Linked DNA regions of Homo sapiens. The protein of the gene in region 4 purifies or fractionates together with the protein of the main gene of each other region. This does not show direct contact. Each region holds a gene or a part of one and is shown on either strand. Other genes may lie near its edges.

The links.
Region 1: the proteins of ETV6 (region 4) and WRAP73 purify together in Homo sapiens (co-immunoprecipitation; one large-scale study listed by IntAct). This does not show direct contact.
Region 2: the proteins of ETV6 (region 4) and LPXN purify together in Homo sapiens (co-immunoprecipitation; one large-scale study listed by IntAct). This does not show direct contact.
Region 3: the proteins of ETV6 (region 4) and TRIM62 purify together in Homo sapiens (co-immunoprecipitation; one large-scale study listed by IntAct). This does not show direct contact.
Region 5: the proteins of ETV6 (region 4) and KLHL13 purify together in Homo sapiens (affinity purification with mass spectrometry; one large-scale study listed by BioGRID and IntAct). This does not show direct contact.
Region 6: the proteins of ETV6 (region 4) and HHIPL1 purify together in Homo sapiens (co-immunoprecipitation; one large-scale study listed by IntAct). This does not show direct contact.

The regions. Positions count from the first base shown.
Region 1 is NC_000001.11:3,647,304-3,651,578, reverse strand, and holds the start of WRAP73 (WD repeat-containing protein WRAP73), read left to right. Parts: upstream 1-1,475; 5' UTR 1,476-1,579; coding exon 1,580-1,648; intron 1,649-4,018; coding exon 4,019-4,171; intron 4,172-4,275.
Region 2 is NC_000011.10:58,548,357-58,551,856, reverse strand, and holds part of LPXN (leupaxin), read left to right. Parts: intron 1-624; coding exon 625-792; intron 793-976; coding exon of another isoform or gene 977-1,060; exon of another isoform or gene 1,061-1,704; intron 1,705-1,710; coding exon 1,711-1,884; intron 1,885-1,989; coding exon 1,990-2,071; intron 2,072-3,500. UniProt on the Homo sapiens protein: Transcriptional coactivator for androgen receptor (AR) and serum response factor (SRF). Contributes to the regulation of cell adhesion, spreading and cell migration and acts as a negative regulator in integrin-mediated cell adhesion events.
Region 3 is NC_000001.11:33,165,044-33,168,543, reverse strand, and holds part of TRIM62 (E3 ubiquitin-protein ligase TRIM62), read left to right. Parts: intron 1-1,748; exon of another isoform or gene 1,749-2,977; coding exon 2,978-3,073; exon of another isoform or gene 3,074-3,500. UniProt on the Homo sapiens protein: E3 ubiquitin ligase that plays a role in antifungal immunity by mediating 'Lys-27'-linked ubiquitination of CARD9 downstream of C-type lectin receptors; leading to CARD9 activation, followed by activation of NF-kappa-B and MAP kinase p38 pathways.
Region 4 is NC_000012.12:11,890,674-11,893,275, forward strand, and holds part of ETV6 (transcription factor ETV6), read left to right. Parts: intron 1-267; coding exon 268-373; 3' UTR 374-2,602. UniProt on the Homo sapiens protein: Transcriptional repressor; binds to the DNA sequence 5'-CCGGAAGT-3'. Plays a role in hematopoiesis and malignant transformation.
Region 5 is NC_000023.11:117,903,811-117,907,310, reverse strand, and holds part of KLHL13 (kelch-like protein 13), read left to right. Parts: intron 1-3,500. UniProt on the Homo sapiens protein: Substrate-specific adapter of a BCR (BTB-CUL3-RBX1) E3 ubiquitin-protein ligase complex required for mitotic progression and cytokinesis.
Region 6 is NC_000014.9:99,672,629-99,676,128, forward strand, and holds part of HHIPL1 (HHIP-like protein 1 isoform a precursor), read left to right. Parts: intron 1-2,462; coding exon 2,463-2,998; 3' UTR 2,999-3,500.

The DNA.
Region 1 (4,275 bases), on a different chromosome or scaffold from region 4:
TGCTCCTCCTAGGCCATCGGGGCTTCCAGGGCCCTCGACCACGTACACCAGGCCCTGGCTAGGGGACCCGACATGCTGGGCGAGTTCCGAGCGGCTCTCAGTGGCGGCGCTGCTTATGGTCTGATGCTTATGGGGCCCGTGATCTGGCTCCGAACCGATGTCCTCTGCCCATGGTGACCCCCACGTCTTGGAAAGTCGCGTCAGTGAAGCCCGTGGCTTCGCGAGCGAGCCGGGCTGGCGCAGACTGGGTTCTCTGGCCGCAGCGGGTCCGCGCCTGACGGGGAGGGTCCGGCTGACTCGCACATCTTCATGGCTCACCCACTGTTTGCTGGGCGCACGGGGTGGGGACCCAAAGACGAATCCCATGCAGAGGTTTGGGTCTAGTTTTGGCAACAGAAAAGGCCGGCACCGCCGGAGTAGGACGCGCGCGCACCACCATCCATTCGGCCGGGGAGGTTGGGGCGTCCGCGGGGAGCAGACCCGAGGCTGGGCGCCCGGAGGTACGAGCAGGACCCTGGCCGGCTCTCAGCTCCCAGAACCCAGGGCCAGGCGGGGATGTCAGGGTCTGCGCGATCTGGGGGGCCCTAGAGGCGCCGGCGGGGCCTGGCGCGGACTACTAGCGGCCTGCGGGAGCCAGGGGTGGAGGGGGCCGCTGTCTAGGGAAGAGGACCGGGGTCCGGAGTGGGGGTGAGAACGAGGCACGCCCCTGAGCCTGCGAAACCTGCGGACCGAGCGCCCGCGCAGGAGCTCGCTCCCTCTGGGCCCCCAGGTCCCAGACCCGCACGATTCTTCGCCCGGTGCCAGCCCAGATGCGCGCGGGTGATGAACGGGCGGTGGCCGCGATCCACGCGCTCGCTCTGCCCAGTCAGCGGCAAATTCGTTCTCTCCTTGATCTCAGTGGCACTGGAGCGTGAGGCAAGGGCCAGGCGGCAGGTAGAGGGGTCGGACTCAGCAAAAGCAAACAAAACCCCAAGCAAACGAAATAAATACTTATACATTACATACACGATATAATATATGTGCGACAGACACCGTATTACTTATTAAAGATATATTTGTAGGTAAACATATATTTACATGTAAACATACATTTACATATAAATATAAATATATATATATGCATGTGTACACACACGCAGACACACAGGTCGCTCAATTAAATTTGAATTTCAGACTAGCGAGTAATTTTTCCGTATTAGCATGTCCCGTGCAATATTTGGGAACATACTTATAACTAGATTTGTTGTGAATCTGAAATTCAAATTTTACTGTGCTTTCTACATTTTTATCAGCAGCCCTAGCTGGAGGTGCTCAAAGGCCTCCCGGCCTTTGAGGTAAGGTTCTCGGGTCGGAAATCCCTGGTCGGAAGAAACGTGGGCGTTTCCTTTAAAGCCCTGCGGCACAAGAACTACAAGCCCCACAATGCCGCGCGGAAGCCGGCGGCGCTGATAGGCTGCAGTTCACTTCCGCCTTCTGACTTCCGGCCTCGGAGGCCGGCGTCGGCTGTTGCAGCCTGCTGCGCGCCCAGGGGTCCCGCGGGTTTTCGGGCGCAGGGTGGCGCCCGCGGCAGGCGGCGGCCATGAACTTCTCCGAGGTATTCAAGCTCTCCAGCTTACTCTGCAAGTTCTCCCCGGACGGCAAGTACCTGGTGAGCGGCGGGGACCTGGGCCACGGGCAGGACATCCTCGGTGCCAGCGTCCCCGGCGGGCAGGGCCGGGGGCGGCCGCGTGGGTGGAGGCAGCTTGGGGATCCTGCAGGTGCGGTGCCCGGACAGGTGCGGGGCCCGGGCAGGTACCCGGGGCAGGTGCAGTGTCTGAGCAAGTGCCCCAGACAGGTGCGGGACCCAGGAAGATACCCTAGACAGGTGGAGGGCCCGGGGAGGTGCCCCAAGCAGGTGCGGGGCCCAGGCAGGTACCCCAAGCAGGTGCGGGGCCCAGGCAGGTACCCCAAGCAGATATGGGGGCCGGACAGGTGCAGGACCCCGGCAGGTGCCCGGGCAGGTGCGGGACCCAGGAAGATACCGTAGACAGGTGGGGGGTCTGGGGAGGTGCCCTTGGAAAGGTGGGTATCGGCAGTGCCGACTGCACACAGGTGAGGGTATAGGAGATGTCGGCTCTTTGTTGTTACTTTGTCACAAAAGGCAAATTGATGATTCTGTTGCCTGTAAACTGGTAAGTGGTGTGGCTACTTTGTCATCTCTACTTCTCCTCTAATTCTCTTCTCCTCTACCACATGCCGAATAAATGATTTAAATACTAGTATTCTATCCCCAGGTAAGGAAGTAGTTGTCCTCATGGCTGGGATTTGAGGTCTTCGTTCCATGGGTGGCAGAAGGGTGCTTAAATCACAGAGCTATAACTTTAAGCTTCAAAACATATAGTGTATGTACCTGGATGCCTAGTAGTGTATATCCTCAGAAGAGAGGGATAACCCGGATGCCTAGTATGTATGTCCTCAGAAGAGGGGGACAATTGGCATTGGAAAGCCACTAAGAAGAAACATGCCTCGTAAAAAGTGGGCTTCGTTTTCCTTATCCACCACCTGTACTAACTGACTGATGTATCATGATGCTTTTTCAGGTTTTGCCACTCCTGACATTCCTGTGCTCTGTCTAGCTTTTGAGAGTTTAACTCTCAAATTACGTTTTTTACCTCTTCAGGGAGGTTTTATTCCAAATCACATAAAATAGCATCAGCTACAAAACAGAAAACCTCATTAGTTTAAATGGCATCTCAGCCTTGGTATATTTTCAATGTGCCCCCCTCCTCAATTAAATGAGAGGTTTGTTTTTTGTTTTTACCATTTATGAAAATTTCAGTGAATTATAAGGAGAAAGATTACATCTGCTTGCTTAACTTGGGTGTTTTTTTCCAGCTTGTACACTCTGGTCAAAATACCCTGAAACACTTGGTAATGATCTGTTACTGGAATCATCTTCTTGAAAGCCCTGAGGACTGGGGAGAGCAGGTCCATGTTTCTAGTTTTCATATCTTGCAGTAGAGTTTATGTGGTTCCTCAAGGTGTTGGTAAAAATATTCCATTTCATAAGGAATTCACTGTAACTGATCACAGTTTTCAAAGCTACAGTGTGAGAAAGTAAGTGCTGTGGTAGCTCCTTGTTCCAATCTGCCGTCACCCGCCTGTCTCTCTTTTCTCCCACGGAAAACTAACGTGGCTTTCTTTTTTGATATCGGTTCATAAAACACAAACTACTTTGACCTTGATAAGTAAAACTAACGAAGCAGTTAATATTTAAACATCAGTTCTTGATCTTGAAACTGTAGTAAAATATACATTCAGCAGGTGAGTACTCAGGCGTTATTTTTACTTGAAATTGTTTGCTTGGATAGGGACATAATGAACAAATATGGACAAGAAGAAACTATCTTTAAGAAAATAGTACTAACACTTAAACATTTCCCGTTTCGTGTTAGGAATAGGTTAATGGAGATAAATGAGCATTTGCGAAGCATCTTTATGTGTGCAGAAGTGAAAGCCTGTCTTTTGATCTTCTGTTGTTTTGGCTCTGAGTTCGGCACTGCATAAGAAGATTGATGCATTCCTTGCCATTTTCGTTGTCATCTGTGAAGCCTCAATTCTTACCCTTTATAAATTTGAGGAAATTGTCCAAAAGTGTTTATAAAACTAGCAGAGGATTTTGGTTATTAGTTCACAGAAGAGCTTTCTCCCAATGCTACTTCCCATTTAAGTTTAGTTTTTAACATACAGATAAGAAGGGACTTAAAAATGTCTTAAAGCTTTAAGTAGCGAGTTAAAACATACTTTTATACTTTACAATAGAGTATAGCAATATTAAAACCTGGCTTGTATATTTCAACATTACCCTTGTATGAACTGAACTGATCTTTAGGGGCTGGGGATGTCACTGGTGATCTAGACATGAAACCTCTGGCAGGAGAGAAGGCCACAGTCACTGAAGGCCAGGGCAGTAGCATTCCGAAGGCCCCCCTCTTTTGGAGTGGAGAATGTCAGGTGCTTGCTTTCTCATATTTTTTAGGCTTCCTGTGTCCAGTACCGGTTAGTGGTCCGGGATGTGAACACCCTTCAGATCCTTCAGCTGTACACGTGCCTAGACCAGATCCAGCACATCGAGTGGTCGGCAGACTCGCTCTTCATCCTGTGCGCCATGTACAAGCGAGGGCTGGTGCAGGTGTGTGCTGCCGTGTCGCTTAGAATCTGGACACCTTCTGAGGGCCCCTGGGAAGGAGGGGTTTTGTTCTGTGCCTTTCTAGTTTGAAAAAAAAGTCCGTGCAG
Region 2 (3,500 bases), on a different chromosome or scaffold from region 4:
AGTCCCAAGTATCTACTCAAATATTACTTCCTTAGAGGGGCCTTCTTTGATTATTACCTCCATCTAAATCAATTCTTCTTACCATCTTGCTGTGTCCCTTCTATCTCTTTCTATAACTTATCTCTGTCTGACATTACAACATATATTTATTTATTTAATTATTTATTGTCTATCGCCCACAGAATGCAATTCCATGAGGCCAGACACTTGGTCTGTCTTATCTTTGCTTTAATCCAAGTGCTTAGAGCAGTGATTGGCACAAACCAGGTATTCAACAATTATTGCCAAATAAATGAGTAAAAGGGAGATGTGACTAATTTTTGAACTGGGGTCATCCTAAGATCTTCAAAGGGTATCATCTTCATGTACTAAATTTCCTACATTAAGAAAAGATTTACAAATATAAAATTAGTCAGATTTCATTTGGCCTGAGGAGTTTAGGATGAAAGGGAGATGAAAAGATTTTTATTGGTGTTGAAATTTTAGATTTTTCCAATGTCTTGCAGGAAGGTTGGGGAAAGGCCAAGAGATCAGTCAGTAGAGGTGAATTTATAGAGTCATTAGAAGATGCCAATGAGAATAAAAATGAGGCTGATTCTGTTCTTGGTTCTTCCCTTGGGCCAGGTTGCAGTGAGAGCAGATGCTGGCAAGAAGCACTTACCAGACAAGCAGGATCACAAGGCCTCCCTGGACTCAATGCTTGGGGGTCTGGAGCAGGAATTGCAGGACCTTGGCATTGCCACAGTGCCCAAGGGCCATTGTGCATCCTGCCAGAAACCGATTGCTGGGAAGGTGAGATGGGCTGAAATTTTGGTCCTACAGCCTTCTTTGTCTCTCTCTGTCTCATCAAGGTTTGCTCTTTCCCCTTATATTTTAAGATATTTTAGTTAGCATTAATAATTACTAATCACTTACAGTGCTCTGGCCACTGAGCTAAGTGCTTTACAAGTATTTCCTCATTTAATGGTCACATCAGCCCTTCAAGAAGAATGATTGCTCCCTTTGTAAAGATGAGGAAACTGAGGACTCAGAGACATTAATGGACATATCCAAGGCATAATAAGAGGTAGAGGTAAGATCTGAAACCAGGAGACTGTCTCCTGAGTTTGAGTTCTTGACCATTTTTCTGTACTGCCTTTACTGAGATGACCTTTCTCACTGCTCCCTTTGTTCACACATTCCCAGTCTAAATTGATTGATTACAATTTTCAGCTGAACTCAGCTCCAAGTCACAGCTGCAAACTCCTGTTCTGCATCGTCCTTCACCGAAGCTATGATAAAAAGCTTTGAGACCTGACTGCATGGGGCGTGGAATAAAGTGTTCAAACTAGAGGAATAAAAACTGTCATTTGGCCTTTTCCTCTTCCAGGGGTCCCTTCCACACTAAGGCTACAGTTACAACTTCTCTGTCATCAATGTGCTATATGTTGTTTCTGCCACCCCCTGTGGCAGTGCAGTGGTTGTGAACATTTACAGGCTTTCATCACAGTGATCAGTCCCGGAAGTGGGCATCCTTTTATTATCAATCCATAAAGCACAGACCACAGATGGCCTTAGGTGGAACCTAGGTCTAGGCCTCAGTGTTGTATAATTCCAGGGCGTGTTGTCTACAAGGGGTACAATGTGAAGAGTGCTCCCTAGAGTTGTGCAACCTGTAGGCTGTAGAGCACTCAACTGGCCTCCTGTGTCAGGCTTTATTTCACTCCACAGGTGATCCATGCTCTAGGGCAATCATGGCATCCTGAGCATTTTGTCTGTACTCATTGCAAAGAAGAGATTGGCTCCAGTCCCTTCTTTGAGCGGAGTGGCTTGGCCTACTGCCCCAACGACTACCACCAACTTTTTTCTCCACGCTGTGCTTACTGCGCTGCTCCCATCCTGGATGTAAGTAAATCCCCGCTCCTCTCCAGCTTTCAGTCACTCACTTAGAACCAGAGTCATGCTTTACAACTTCTGCATCATTATAATATCTGTGTGTTCCCTTTCCAGAAAGTGCTGACAGCAATGAACCAGACCTGGCACCCAGAGCACTTCTTCTGCTCTCACTGCGGAGAGGTGTTTGGTGCAGAAGGTATGACCCGACTTGAGAGGCTGTATCCCACACCCCAGTGGGTAGTTATAAGACCAGCAACACCTTTCCTGGTAGTCACGGGAGTCCTGGTTCCTATCAGTACTATCAAAGTGCCCATTTCAGTACTAGATACCATCCCTCCCTACCTTTCTCCAACATTTATAATTTCCCTTTAAATTGATTTTTTAAATCACAGAAATACAAATGCATAGTTTAAAAACTCAAATATTACTTCAAGGGTAATATTGAAAAAGCCTTTTCTTGTTGAATATTGAAAAAGTCCCTTTCTCATCTCCAAATCCAGTTCTCCTCTCCAAATTATTTTAGCTGTTTCTTCTGATATTTACTTATTTTTTGTTGTTGTTGTTGTTTGTTTTTTTGAGACGGAGTCTCACTGTGTTGCCCAGGCTGGAGTGCAGTGGTGCGATCTCTGGTGCGATCTCCGCCCACTGCAACCTCCACCTCCTGGGTTCAAGCGATTCTCCTGCCTCAGCCTCCCAAGTAGCTGGGACTACAGGCACTTGCCACCACACCCGGTTAATTTTTGTATTTTTAGTAGGGACAATGTTTCACCATATTGGCCAGGCTGGTCTTGAACTCCTGACCTCGTGATCCGCCCGCCTTGGCCTCCCAAAGTGCTGGCATTACAGGCATGAACTACTGCGCCTGGCCTGCTTATGTGTTTTAAATAATAACTTTATATTGTTATAGATTGTTTTATTTTTCCAGTTTTAACCATTATGTATTGACTGTCTAAGAGGGAAGATGAGGTTTAGAAATGTTATTATTACCCCACTCACTCCTAACATATTTCCCCTCCCCTGTTTTTTCAATATATAATTATGTCATAATTACAGGTTAGATCAGTATTAAGTGTGCATATGTTGACAATCATAGAATACTGCTCACAAGTAAGCCATGTAGCAAACTGACTACACTAGAGTCTGGATTTTAGAGTCAGACTTCCAGGTTCAAATCTGGGTTGTGGTATTTGTTCAAGTCATTTAACATCTCTGTACCTTACTTTCCTCATCAGTAAAATAGTCCTAATGAAATTGCCTACCTTATAGGGTTGTTATGAGGATTTAGAGACAATACAAGCGTGGTATTTAGAATAGTGCCAAGCACATGGAGGTATAGTAGTGTTAATATTATTATCACAGTGTCCTTTTGGTATAAATTCATTTTTTTCTAAAGTTAACATTTGAATCCTTTTTGAAATTGGCTTAGTTTTTATTGTACTTATCACTAAGTTATGCAACAGAACTGTGAAATTCTTTTCAAAATGGCCAACTACATCTGGCAACAAGTCAGTTTCTTTCTTTTCTTTTTTTTTTTTCTGGAGATATCCCTCCAGGAGACTTTCCTCCTCCTGATTCAACATGAAATGATTTCTTCCTGCTGAGTAGCAGTCATTCTGGTTCATTAA
Region 3 (3,500 bases), on a different chromosome or scaffold from region 4:
TGCTGCGGCAGGTTGCACTGGCTCCTGAGAGCTGATTGTGTGCATCTCATCCCAATGCCAAGTCCAACTACTACTTCACACTGATGGCTTGAAATCCACTTGAGTGGGAACATTTACACCATGGAAATTGGCACTGTTGGGGATTTAAAAAAAAAAGTTTTTCTCAGACAGCCAGCTTCCTAGCATGTCACTGAGTAAACCGATGGTGTGGCAGCCCCACAGTCATCAGGGACTCGGGCTCCTTCTTCCTTCTACTCTTCTGGTTTCAGCTTGTGACTTTGGTCTTTACAGTTGCCTCATGGCCTGAGATGGCTGCCAGAGTTCCAACAATTGCATCAGCATGGGCTCTCAAAACAAGCAGCTTGTATTTTTCTATCTTACCCCCATTTTCATGGCTGGCTCCTCCTCATCCTTCTGCTGTCACCTCCTCAGAGAAGCCTTCCCTGGCCACCCTACCTAAAGTCCCCTCCATCTCACACTGCTTTATTTTCTCTGCAGGACACACCATATTGGTAACCTCGCTCCTTTATTATTTTCCTTGTTTGTTGTCTGTCTTCCCCACCAGACTAGTCCCTATGATCAGGGACTGTGTCTGTCTTGTCCTTCGCCATAATCCCAGTGCCTCAACAGTGCCTGGTACATAATAGTTGCCCAAGAAATGTTTTTTAAATGAATAATTGATAGTAATCAAAGATAATTTTGTTTCCTGCATTCTTCCATCAGCATGTCATCATGAATATTTTCCCATGTTGCTGCCTAGTCTGTAAAATTAATTGAACTAGACATTTACCAAGGCCCTCCCTGGTCTGACAAGCTGAATGAGTGGGAGGGAGGTGGATGTGAACAGGTAAGTCAGCCTTCCTGGCACTGCTCACAGCCCAGACTGACTTGGGGAACTCAGAGGCCATTTCCAGGAACTTCATTCACGCAGCAAGCGTCATTGAGTCCCATCTCAGTGCCAGGCTGTTGCTGGGTGTGAGGTATATGGAGAGGGAGCAGTAGGAGCCACCCTGGAGGACTTGTGGGCCAATACGGGGACGAAGAAGAGACAGACAGGAGAACAACTGGCGATAATACAATGGGCTAGATTCCCAATGCCTGCAGACAGCTGGACCCTGTGCTAGGGAGCACTCACCTCCACAACCCATTTATCACTTGACAAATAATCACTGAGTCCCTGGGCATAAGGCAGGGAACAAGCCAGACAAGATTCCTACTACTCTCATGAAACTCACATTCTAGTGAGGAGATAAGCAATAAACACACAGTCAAATATATTCAGACAGCAGAAGGCGCAAGGAAGACCGTGAATCCAGATGTGTGACAGGGTATGAGGAGGTGCCACTGTGCGTGGGGCGGTCAGGCAAGACTCTTCAAGGAGGTGGCATCTGAGTTAAATTAATGGTACAAAGGAGTCACCGTGAGAAACTCTGAGAGTGGAGGCCACCAGCCAGAGGGAATAGCCAGGGCATAGTCTGAAGATTGGAACGAGCTCAAGATGGTGGAGGCACAGGAAGAAGGCCACTGGCTGGATGGGAGTGATGGGGGAGGGTGTTGGAGACAGAGGTGGGATCAGAGGGTGCCCCAAACTCAGCAATCAAGATGAATAGTATTTAATGCAATATTTCTTAAATCAAAATTAATGCAAAAAACCCACGATGAACAAAATTCAACATTTCAAACAAGGCCAGGATCACTAACAATGCTCTGCTGAGCCACACTGGAACCTGAGACAAAGGAAAAATCAGTGAGGCTGATTGTGTTTTTATTTAAAATTTTGATATCTTGTGTGTTGTGGATTTGTTGTTATTCATCGCAGGAGTCATCATGGTAGAAAACGTGTCACCTGGCATCAAGATCATGGTCTCCACAACCAGGCTGTCCGGGTTCCAATTCCTTCTTTACCATTATATGTTTATCTGTATGCTATGGGGCCAGTTTCTTGACCTCTCTGTATCTTTTTCTCCATCAGAAGATGGAGATAATAATTGTGCCTCCCTTAGGGTTACTGAGAGGCCCAAATGATTTAATATAAGCAAAGAGCTAAGAACTGTGCCCAGCCCACTGTAGCCCTCGGAGAATGTTGGCAGCTAGTCTGTAGCATTGGACTGGTACAGCTTTGGTTCCTTAGAGCAGTGGTCCCCAACCTTTTTAGCACCAGGGACCAGCTTCATGGAAGACAATTTTTCCACAAACCGCAGGGGGTGGGGGTGGGGTGATGGTTTCAGGATGATTCAAGCACATTACATTTATTGTGCACTTTATTTCTATTATTATTTCATTGTAATATATAATGGAATAATTACACAACTCAACATGATGTAGGATCAGTGGGAGCCCTGAGCTTGTTTTTCCGCAGCTAGACAGTCCCATCTGGGGGTGATGGAAGACAGTGAGTGATCATCAGGCATTAGATTCTCATAAGGAGCAGGCAACCTAGATCCCTCCCATGTGCAGTTCACACTCCTGTGAGAATCTAATGCCACCACTGATCCAACAGGAGGTGGAGTCAGGTGGTAATGCCAGCGATGAGGAGCGGCTGCAAATACAGATGGTTTGCCCCTCCCCACCACTGTTCATCTCCTGCTGTGCGTCCAGGTTCCTAACAAGCTATGGACCAATACCCACCTGTGGCCTGGGGGTTGGAGACCCCTGCCTTAATTCTAAGCGGGGATCCAGGGCCAAGTGTGGGGAGCCAGAGAGTGTGTATGTGGAAGTCGATTGTCACAGAAGCCTCTAGGGTGGCCAAAGAGGAGGAGGTTGTTGCAAAGATGCAGGTGAAAGATACGGACGGGTTCTGGAGGTGTTTAGGAGACAGACTCTACAGGACTTGCTGGTGGTTGAACTGTGACGGGAGGCAAGTGTTGGAGGTTGGGGACAGAGACCAGGCTAACCCCCAGCGCCTGGCAGTGGTCAGGGCTGAATGCCTGGGCCAGGCATGGCCCCTGCCCCCATCCCGGCCCTGTGTGTGTTTCAGAGGGAGCTGAAGGACCAACTTCAGGCCCTTCAAGACAGCGAGCGGGAACACACCGAAGCGCTGCAGCTGCTCAAGCGACAACTGGCGGAGACCAAGGTGAGCCTGGCCGGGGCGCGGAGGTGGGGCCGGCAGAGATGAGGGCAGGGCTTCGAGGGGCGGGGCCAGCTGGGGAAGAGGGGCGGGGCCTCGGGTGTGCGGTGGAAACCTGGCTTCAAGGAGCCAAACCTGGAGTGAGAAGGGCAGGGTGGGGAAGAGGGTAGGGCATCCGTGAAGTTCAATGGGGCGGCACCCACCCCATCATGACTGGCGGCAAGGATGTGGGCTGGTCCCTCGGTTAAGGACGGGGCCATTTCTCCCTTCCCACTTTGGGTGGAAGTTGAGGCGGGTCCCGGGACCCTCCGGAAACCCCCTGCCTCCTGAAGGGCTGGGGAATGTGCTCAGTCTCTTTCTCCTCTCCCCTTATTAAAACCGCCCAACCCTGGTGTTGTGACACACACTTGTAGTCCCAGTCTCTTCAGAGGCC
Region 4 (2,602 bases):
CTTGGCCTCCCAAAGCACTAGGATTATATGCATGAGCTACCATGCCTGGCCCTAGTCTTTTTAAATAAGCATTTTACCACTTTTTAGACAGTCAGAGAAAGGAGTACCTTTTCCTAATTTGCACTAAGTTAACATTAATCTCGGGGTTCAGTAGCTCTCCAGCTGTATAAGATGATGGAGTCTTTCTTTATATACAGGCTAGAGTTCAGAGTGAAGACAGCTTTAGGAAAATGGAATCTCTTACCTCCTCCACTTCTTCTTCCAAAGGTTTATGAAAACCCCAGATGAAATCATGAGTGGCCGAACAGACCGTCTGGAGCACCTAGAGTCCCAGGAGCTGGATGAACAAATATACCAAGAAGATGAATGCTGAAGGAACCAACAGTCCACCTCAGCGGGCCAGCAGCCCAGGGAACCCCTGCCCACCAGGATTGCTGGAAGTGTGACGGAGCAGGCGGGCTGAGGAGAGTGGAAAAGGAAGCGACCCAGAAATGGCAGGGACACTTCTCTTGCAGACCAAGAGGGACCCTGGAGCACCTTAGACAAACTACCCAGCACAGGCGGGGCTGGAATTCTGGCGGAGGGCATGAGCCTGGGACTCCATGTCACGTTTCCTTCTGATTTGGAATCTCTCCATCTGTAATTCCTCACCCTCACCCTTCCACCGTTGTTAGTATCATGGTGTTTTTGTTTTTGTTTTTGTTTTAAGAACCTGCAGTTTGACTCTTCATCGTTCATCTAGGGGAAGACATCTGATGTTGTTTTCCTATGGAAATATATATCTATTATATATATATTTTTTGCAAATCTCACAAAGTGCGGCAAGCCCAGCTGGTCAGGAAAGAGAATACTTGCAGAGGGGTTCAGGTTCCTCTTTTTCCTGCCACGTGGATCAGGTCTGTTCCTGTTACTGTTGGGTCTTGGCTGAAAAAAAAAAATGCTTTTAAAAAAGATAAAATGAAAAGGAGAGCTCTCTTTTTCTCTCTCTTGCTCTGTTCTTCCCTTGGTCCCCTCTGTCCTCCCGCCCTGCCTGCAGTTGAGATTCAGATGCCTTCTGACAGAGTTCAGCCTCTTGGAGAGTCTTGGGGATTGTTGGCACCTAAACAGAATCAGTGACCCGGGTGCTTTGTGGCCAGCAGCACAGAATCAAACCCGCATCCCAGCATTGGGCCACCCATCTGAGGGAGGCCAAAATCATCACAGATGCTGCTGTGCTGCAGACAGATACATGCTAGTCCAGAGAGCCGCCCCTGAGATGGCTGTGAGAACCATGTGTCTAAGGCGTAAGATAAGGATGGAAGGCTGTCCAAGTTATTTGGAAGGCCTCGGCAGCTTGGGATTAGCTTGGGAGCGCAGCGCTGCAAAGTGGAAAATATGAAAAGACCACACAGGCCCAGCAGTCCAGAAACTGGGCAAAAATATTCTGCAGTGGGGATTTATTTTTCCAAAGCAGGTAACAGAGGCTAGTGAGAAAGAAAAGCTCCTCTCTGCTCCATTCCAAAGGCCATCTTGTGGTCAGTTTCATGCCCTCACCTGATTTTTTTTTTTTTTTTTTTTTTTCAATTCCTAACCTTTTTTAAAGTTTCCTGGTCTCCACTGGACACAGAGCTTTGGAGACGGAGGATCCCAGAGGGCAGTCTCAGTTGCAATCAGTGTGTGCCCAGCCTGGGCAGACAGGAAATTCCTCGGATACATTATTTTTTCTTTCTTTCATAGCTGTGTCTCAGAAAGGACCCATTTGTGGCTCTTTTTCACCTCAAAATAAGATCGATGGTATCTTGTAAAATGAGGGTAGTGCCACTTCTTAGTATTTTTGAAAGCTGTTTTAGATTTTTTTTTTTTTTCCTTTTCTAGCCATCTAAATTGACTCTTCCAATATAGGTCTCAGAAATCCAATATTTGGAGTACAATTTCTTTTAATCCAGATTACACCTGCCTTACAAAGCACCCCCTCCTTGTTCCCCTCTGTTTCCTCTACTCAGTTGGGGGAGAAACTCACAGCTCCTCCGGGATACATATGTGCCCTCAGCAGCAGCTCCCAGGTGAAGTTACCAGACCCCTGGGCTTCTCCCCAGCTTTTTCTGAGTTGAGTCAGACATGTAGAGTTTGGGTCACACAGGCAAGAGGAATTTTCCCTCGGCCTTACTGACAAGGACACCAACCTAGGGTGCAAACAGATGGACTATGGTTCAAGGACACTGGAATTGAGGAGCTGATCAAGGCTCTCTTCAGCCTTGCTCTGTCCCTGCCTCTTATCAGAGCACAGGTAGACACACGGGCATAGCCAGCCCACTCCTACTGTCACAGGCGCCCCACCATTCAACCTTCCGGGAGGTCAGGGACCTTCTATATGAGGCGAGTGGGTCTCAGTCTGCTTGAATGGTGATGAGATTCTGCTGGATCTCAGCACGCTGCAGGTGTCTTTTGAGAGCATTCAGTAGGACATGGTGATCCCTATTTCAGCCTCTAAGATGACTGGTATTCTATCTGAAATGCAGAGATTAAGCCAAATACCTGATGTATTGTGAAAGCCACTGATTTTAAGAATGGAGAGAAAGGGATTTTTTACTGCATCCCTCTGTATGAATATGAAATCAGAGAC
Region 5 (3,500 bases), on a different chromosome or scaffold from region 4:
CTTCAGGCCAAGGAGAGTCATTACATAAAACCAAGATGCTAGAGGCTTCTTTCTTTGAACCTATCCCAACTCTCTTTCAGCTGCTCCTATGGTATACCCATCTAGGAACTAGAAATAGACCACACTGTTGGGCAAGTGGCTCATACACAGGAATCCTTGCTCCTGACCTTCAGAAACCACCCCTCCATCTCTGATTAAAAACAGTCTTCTGTGTTTCATTTTGAAAGGGAAAAGAAACAAGGAAATCATGCTTTTCTTAGGGTATTCCTAAATTCATATTTAGGCTTTAACAATAAAATTTCTAAAGCTTAACCTAAGGATAATGACTTAAAAAAATTTCCCCTCTAATGGTAAATATAGGTCCATTTTAATCTTATTTCATAAACTGCATTTAAAAAAAGGCACATGTCATTATAATACAGGCACAAACCATCTATTCCAAGAATTCTAATTCTAGTTATCATCCAATTATTTGATATTTTATTCCATTTGAAATGATCTATAGATTACAAATCTATAATGACCTCATAGATTTGTAACCTATAAGTAGCTAAACTTTTGTAGAAAATGATTGCGTCCCTTAAAATCAGCATACCCATCAAACGCATTCTGTACTAAACATTTTATTATATAATATATTGGAAGTTTAAAAAATATTTTGTGATTGACTTAGTAAGTGCATTCAAATTTAGAGTCTTGATTTCAGGAGAAAAAAGGCCAAAAAGAGTCATTAGATAAAGCCAAGAAGCAAGAGGTTTCATTTGTTTCTGATCCACTCCACCCCCTTTGAGTTCTTTCTATGTTATACTCAAATAGAAGCAAGAAGTAGATTGTCTTGTCACGTCACATCCTGTATTACGGAGGTAACCAAACTTGATGAAACCTGCCTTGATTACTATTGCTCCCAAAGAATAATATTAATGAAATTTCCTGAATTCTATCCATGATCGTGTTTCTCTTTATATAAATAAAAAATGAATTTGTGTTAGTTGGCATTTCCAGTTTTCTTGGACCCATTGTTTTTGCAGAATAGCAGATTTTGATTCTAAAGAAACTCTTGCCTATATTTCTGAATGTTCCTGCCAGAAACTGAGGTTTTAACATTTCCCCTACCCTACAAGCGCTTTTTAAAAATAGAATTCCTCCTTCAACGCACACATTAACATCTGTTATAATAAATTAACATTCCCATTGTAACTGATTAAGTTGAGACATTCATATGCCTATGTAAATAGAAGGAGGTGATGGGAATGGGTGGCAGGAAGAGGGGATTGATGGGAAAGTCATTTAACAATTTAATAGGTTGATTAGTACCAGTATATCACTTCATACACACAGTAACTATTGCCTGTATATAATTATAAAAAGAAAAATTTGATGGGTACAAAAATAGTTAGAATGAATTAATAAGGCCTAGTATTTGATAGCACAGCAGGGTGACTATAGTCAATAATAATTTAATTGTATGTTTTACAATAAGTATGAGTATATATAATTGGATTATTCGTAACACAGAGGATAAATGCCTGAAAGGATGGATACTCCATCTTCTATGATGTGATTATTATACATTGCATACCTGCATCAAAACATCTCATGTACCCCATAAAAATATACACGTACTATGTACCCACAAAAATTAAAAATTAAAAAAAAAACAGTGGCAACATTTGCAAGACAGTTTAGATCACTTTAATGCATTAGGCCTTTTAAAATCTTTCCATGGGGTACTTGGACCAAAGGAAACCTAAGCCCATTGTTCATCAAAAAAAGACTGTGTGTGTGTGTGTGTGTGTGTGTGTGTGCACGCACTAGCACACGTGCTCACCTGGTTTAGTGCTGAAATATAATTCCTTCAAAATGCTGCTTTCCTTTGACACTGGTTACAATGGGAAACTAGGGGAGGCTTAGAGTAGCTGTCACTTAAGTGTAAAAGGAGTCAGTTATTTCTGGCATCTTTCAAAATTGTGTCATATAAGAAATCAATCTTCTATTGAGGCTTCCTATATTGAAGAAGATTATGACAGCTCCAATATCTTTCACTTCAGTTAAATATTAATAAGTTAAGGTTTCAAATAATGAAATAACTTATAGAAAACATGTTAGATGTTTTTCAAATACATGCACAATAAAACTACTAAAATTTATTAAATGCCTCTATACCCCCCAAAGGATTTGGGGGTTTCTTGATCACTCACCAGCGTTCTATGTTTCTAGAGTCCATCTCCCCTGTATGACAGCCATCACTGTTTAAATGATTTTCTTTAGGCTGATCTCTTTCCTAATCTTAAAGAACAAATAAATTCCACATCCTCTTCTGGGACCGATTCTGGATTCCTATGGAATTATCTCAGAAAATAAGAACTCCTGATATATGTGAGATAACCAACCTAAGTATAATTCTTAAATTGGAGAGATTCTTTAATGTAAACACTAGGCCACCAAACTACTGAAGTTAATTCTCTAGATTAGGGGCCAGCAAACTTTTGTAAAGGGCCAGAAAGAGTCTATTTCCAGCTTTGTGGGCCATTAAATCTCTGTCACAAGTAATCAACTCTGCTGTTGTAGTGTAAAAGCAACCCTACATAATCCATAAACAAATGAGTGAGGCTGTGCTCCAATAAAGCTTTATTTGTGAACATGAAATTTGAATTTTATAGAATTTTCATAAGTTACAAAATAGTCTTGATTCTTTTTCAATGTGTAAAAAATGTAAAATCATTCATATTTTTATCTTTTGGGCCCTACAAAACAGGAAGTAGACTGGATTTGGCCTATGGACTGAGGTTTGCTGCCACCTGCTCTAGATTTTTCCAGTTGCCTCTTTACCATTTCCAACTCTTATAGACTACGATTGAAGCACTGCTTTGTGGCTCCAACTCTTTGCCTTGCATCATCCCTTACTCCCTCTTCCCATCAGAGTTGTTGGTACTAACCTATATCTGAGTGTCGTGTAAATATGGAAAATGGAAATAAGAGCATGTGTATCTACTTTTTAATTAGATGTATTTTATTTTAAAATAAAATACTATTGATTTTACTGATAACAATAGCAACTCTGCATGGAGAATTGCATGACAATAAAAGTTGACAATAAAAATTAAATGCCTGGAACAGCTAAAGGAGATGCATTTTTAGCTGGAAAAAAGCTTAAGAATGATGGACTATTATATAGTAATTTTGTTATTGGTGGTTAATAGCTATCTTGAACTGAGGGCCTCCTGTGTGAGAAAGTACAAATGGATTCTTATAACCACTATTAGGGGAAAATGCAATTAAGTCACTGACAGAGGAATTATCTTTCTACATAGGAAAATATTAATAATAATAAAAAGTGAATAAGTATTCAAATTCTAACTCCACTATAAAAAGAATAAGAAGAAACTAATGGAAATCACATTGGAACAGTTTGAATTAAACATAAGAAAGGACAGTTACAATCCAAAAATTTCAAAGTTTAAGTCAGAGTCCCGCATTAAGAAAAGTGTAAAACTATAGTG
Region 6 (3,500 bases), on a different chromosome or scaffold from region 4:
ATAGCTGGTGCCAGGCAAGGTACTCTGTGAGTTCTTGGGAGGGACAGAGAAAGAGGATGTATCTGTGTGTAAGCAAGGGAGACCGGAAGAGTTGTTTGTGGGAGGGGCTGGCATATGGGCTGGGCCTTCATAGATTGTTGACAAGCCTGATGAGGAGAGACGACAGAGCAGGGCCACAAATGACTGCCCATGGGGCCTGGGACTGGGGGAAGGGGATGCCCCAGGCTGGGGCTGTTCCCCTGGGCCCAAGTTAGGTGGGAACAAAGACCCTGTGTTGCCAGGTCTTCCAATTCTTCAGAGAAGCAGAAAATCCCCCCATCCACTCATTCACCACGGACACGTGCCCTGCCCTGGGGATACAGCACACGGCGAGACACTGCAGTCCTCGCCTTCTCAGCCTGTTAGGTACAACCTCCCAATTCAAAGTGTTGGCGACTAGTTCAGAATTTTAAAAACCACTCCGCGAGCCAAGGAAAATATTTCAGCAGGCCAAGTGGGCTCAGCAGGCCACCCATTGGCAGACTGGGTGTGTATGGGGGTGGGGAGGGCAAGAAGAGAGGGAGGCTAGGCACCTGGGCTGAAGAGGTACCCGGGTAGAGGGGGAAGGGTCTGAGCTCAGTGATTTTGGAAGTGAGTTCTGGCCACAGTTGGTTTCAGGGCTTGGTGAGTTTTTCATTTACTCATTCAGCAGTTTCTGGCACTTTTGTTAGTTACTGGCTCCATGCTGGATGCCAGAGCCACAGTGAGAAGTCAGACTAGGCCCTGTTCTGGCTGGGACGGACAGAGATGTCATTTACTGTCCAAGGCCTTGTGATCGAAGTGTGTGCCAGGTACCGTGAGGACCCACCCAGAACAGTGGAGACTGGGGTTGGGGGTAGGGGTTCCTGGAGTCTGAAAAGAAGAGGAAGGGTGCACCAATAGGGGGTTGCACTGAGGGGGGTGGCAGCTAGGGGGATGGCACTGAGTGGGTATGGCACTGAGGGGGGTACACCTGGAGGGGGTGCACTGAGGGGGATGGCATGGAGGGGGGGTGCACTGAGGGGGGTGGCACAGAGGGGGTGGTGCACTGAGGGGGGTGCACCTGGAGGGGTTGCACTGAGGGGGGTGGAATGGAGGGGGGTGCACTGAGGGGGTGGCACGGAGGGGGTGGTGCATTAAGGGGGGTGGCATGGAGGGGGGGTGCACTGAGGGGGGCGGCATGGAGGGGGGGTGCACAGAGTTGGGGGATGCACCCAGGCAGGTTGCACGGGGGGGTGCACCTGGGGGAGTGCACTGAGGGGGGCTGGCACCAAGAGGGAGGTTCACTCAGGAGGGTGCACCGAGGGGGGTGGCAGTGCAGGCAGAGGGAACAGCAAGAGCCACAGTGGGAGAGGTGAGGCAGCCTGAGGAGCAGGAGGTGGGGGCCAGGGGCCAGGGTGCAGGGACAGGGAGCGCCTTGCCCATGTCATGGTGCTCTGGGCCCTGGCCTGTGCTTGGCCTTGTGCTGAGAGGCCCTTTCTCAGCTCTCTCTCAGTGGTTTTCAAAGTGGGACTGGCTGAAGTGGGGCGGGATTAAAGAGGTTTGGCCTGGTGGCCCCAGGATCCTCCCCATAGTAATTGAACAGTCTTGGGCTGTGACGCATGGCAGTGCCCAGTGCCTGGCACTGCACCTGTGTGGAGTAGAGCTGGGCACAGCAAAGTGTAGATTGAGGTCTATCCCTGTGGCTGACCTGGGCCAAGCGTGTCCCCACATTCTGCAGAGACAAAGGAAATCACCTGCCTCAGCTCCCTAGCACCGACTGCACCCAGGCTCTGTGGTGGGGTATAGGGGCTCTGCCTTGTTCCCCAGACACAACCAGAGTTCCCCCATCGTACCCGCTGTGACAACCCGCTGGTGCCAACCTTGGGAACCAGGAGGAAAGAGATTCACCCTGACCCCAGGGATCCCTGTGTGTATCCCGTTCCCAACCTGCTGGCCACTGGCCACCACAGACCCGCAGCAGTTTTTACCCATCTGTGGGCCTCAGCTTCCTCACCCTCACAACCAAGGCCTGGAAGATGAAACGGTGACTTTCTCTTAGAAGCCTTCCCAGACACTCCTTCCTTTCATTGCCTTCCAGAGTTATGAAGTGCCAGGAGCTGGCTCCCCCACCAACCTAGGGACTCCTGGGAAGGTGGGGCTTGGGGTAGGGAGACGCAGCAACAGCAGACTGGCACAAAGCAGTTGATAGTGTTTGCTGTATGACTGAAAAAGCCCCTGGCCCCTGAGTCCAGGCCGGCATCTTGCTGGGTCCGGGTGACCTGGGAAGCACGACTGGGAGCGCAGGCGGCATCCCGTCTTCTGGGTGTGAGTGCAGGACAGACCCAGGACATCCTTCCCCGAGTCTGCGCTCTCCGCACAGGTTGCAGGGCAGCACAGGGTGGGCAGCAGGGCTGGACAGGGGCGCCTGGGTCCCTCTGACGGCATACTCTTCCTCTGCGCAGAGTTCATCCCGAAGACACGGAGCACCCCGCGGCCTACAGCGCGGGCGCCCACGCGGGCGCCCCGCCGAGGGCGCCCCACGGCCGCTCCCCCCGCGCCAACCCCGCGGCCAGCGCGGCCCACCCAGCAGCCAGGGAGCCGGAGGGGCGGCGGGCGGCGGCGGGGGCGGCTGAACTCGGCGAGCCGGGCGTTCCGGGATGGCGAGGTGCGCCTGGTGCGGCCCGCGGGCCTGAGCTCTGGCAGCGGGCGCGTGGAGGTGTTCGTGGGCGGACGCTGGGGCACCGTGTGCGACGACTCCTGGAACATCAGCGGCGCCGCCGTCGTGTGTCGCCAGCTGGGGTTTGCCTACGCCGTGCGCGCCGTCAAGAGAGCCGAGTTCGGCCAGGGCGGCTCGCTGCCCATTCTGCTGGACGATGTGCGCTGCGCGGGCTGGGAGCGGAACCTGCTGGAGTGCCAGCACAACGGCGTGGGCACCCACAACTGCGAGCACGACGAGGATGCGGGCGTCGTGTGCAGCCACCAGAACCCCGACCTGTAGGCAACACGCCGCTGCCCCAGGCCATCCCGCCGGCGGGGGAGCCTGGCAGGGGCCGCTCCGCCCTGTGTGCGCCCAGCGGGTGCACACGTGTTCTAGAGTGAAGGGGGTGCGGGTGTGTGCTGTCCTGGGGACATGTGTGAGGCGCTGCAGTGCATGTGTGTCCTCTGCAGACCCAAGGCAGGAGTGTGTGTTGGGGGCGGTGTGGGCTCTGGAAGTGCATGGTCCATCATGGGCGGGAGGAGTTCCTTTCTTACCTCCAAGCGTTTCAGACACCAGCAGGAACAGCAGCCGGGCTGTGGGACCCTGAGGAGGGAGGGCAGCCAGGCTTCGAGGACGGACATGGCCCCTGGCTGTGCTAACAGAGGCACAGCTTGCAGACTGAGGGCGGTGGGGAGAACCAGGCTTGTCCTGCCCACAGCTGGAATGGAAGGTGCAAGAACAGCCGGAGGGTGGCCTGAGGAATGTGGCCCGGACAGCATGGCCTGGTGCCCGCATCCCCCCC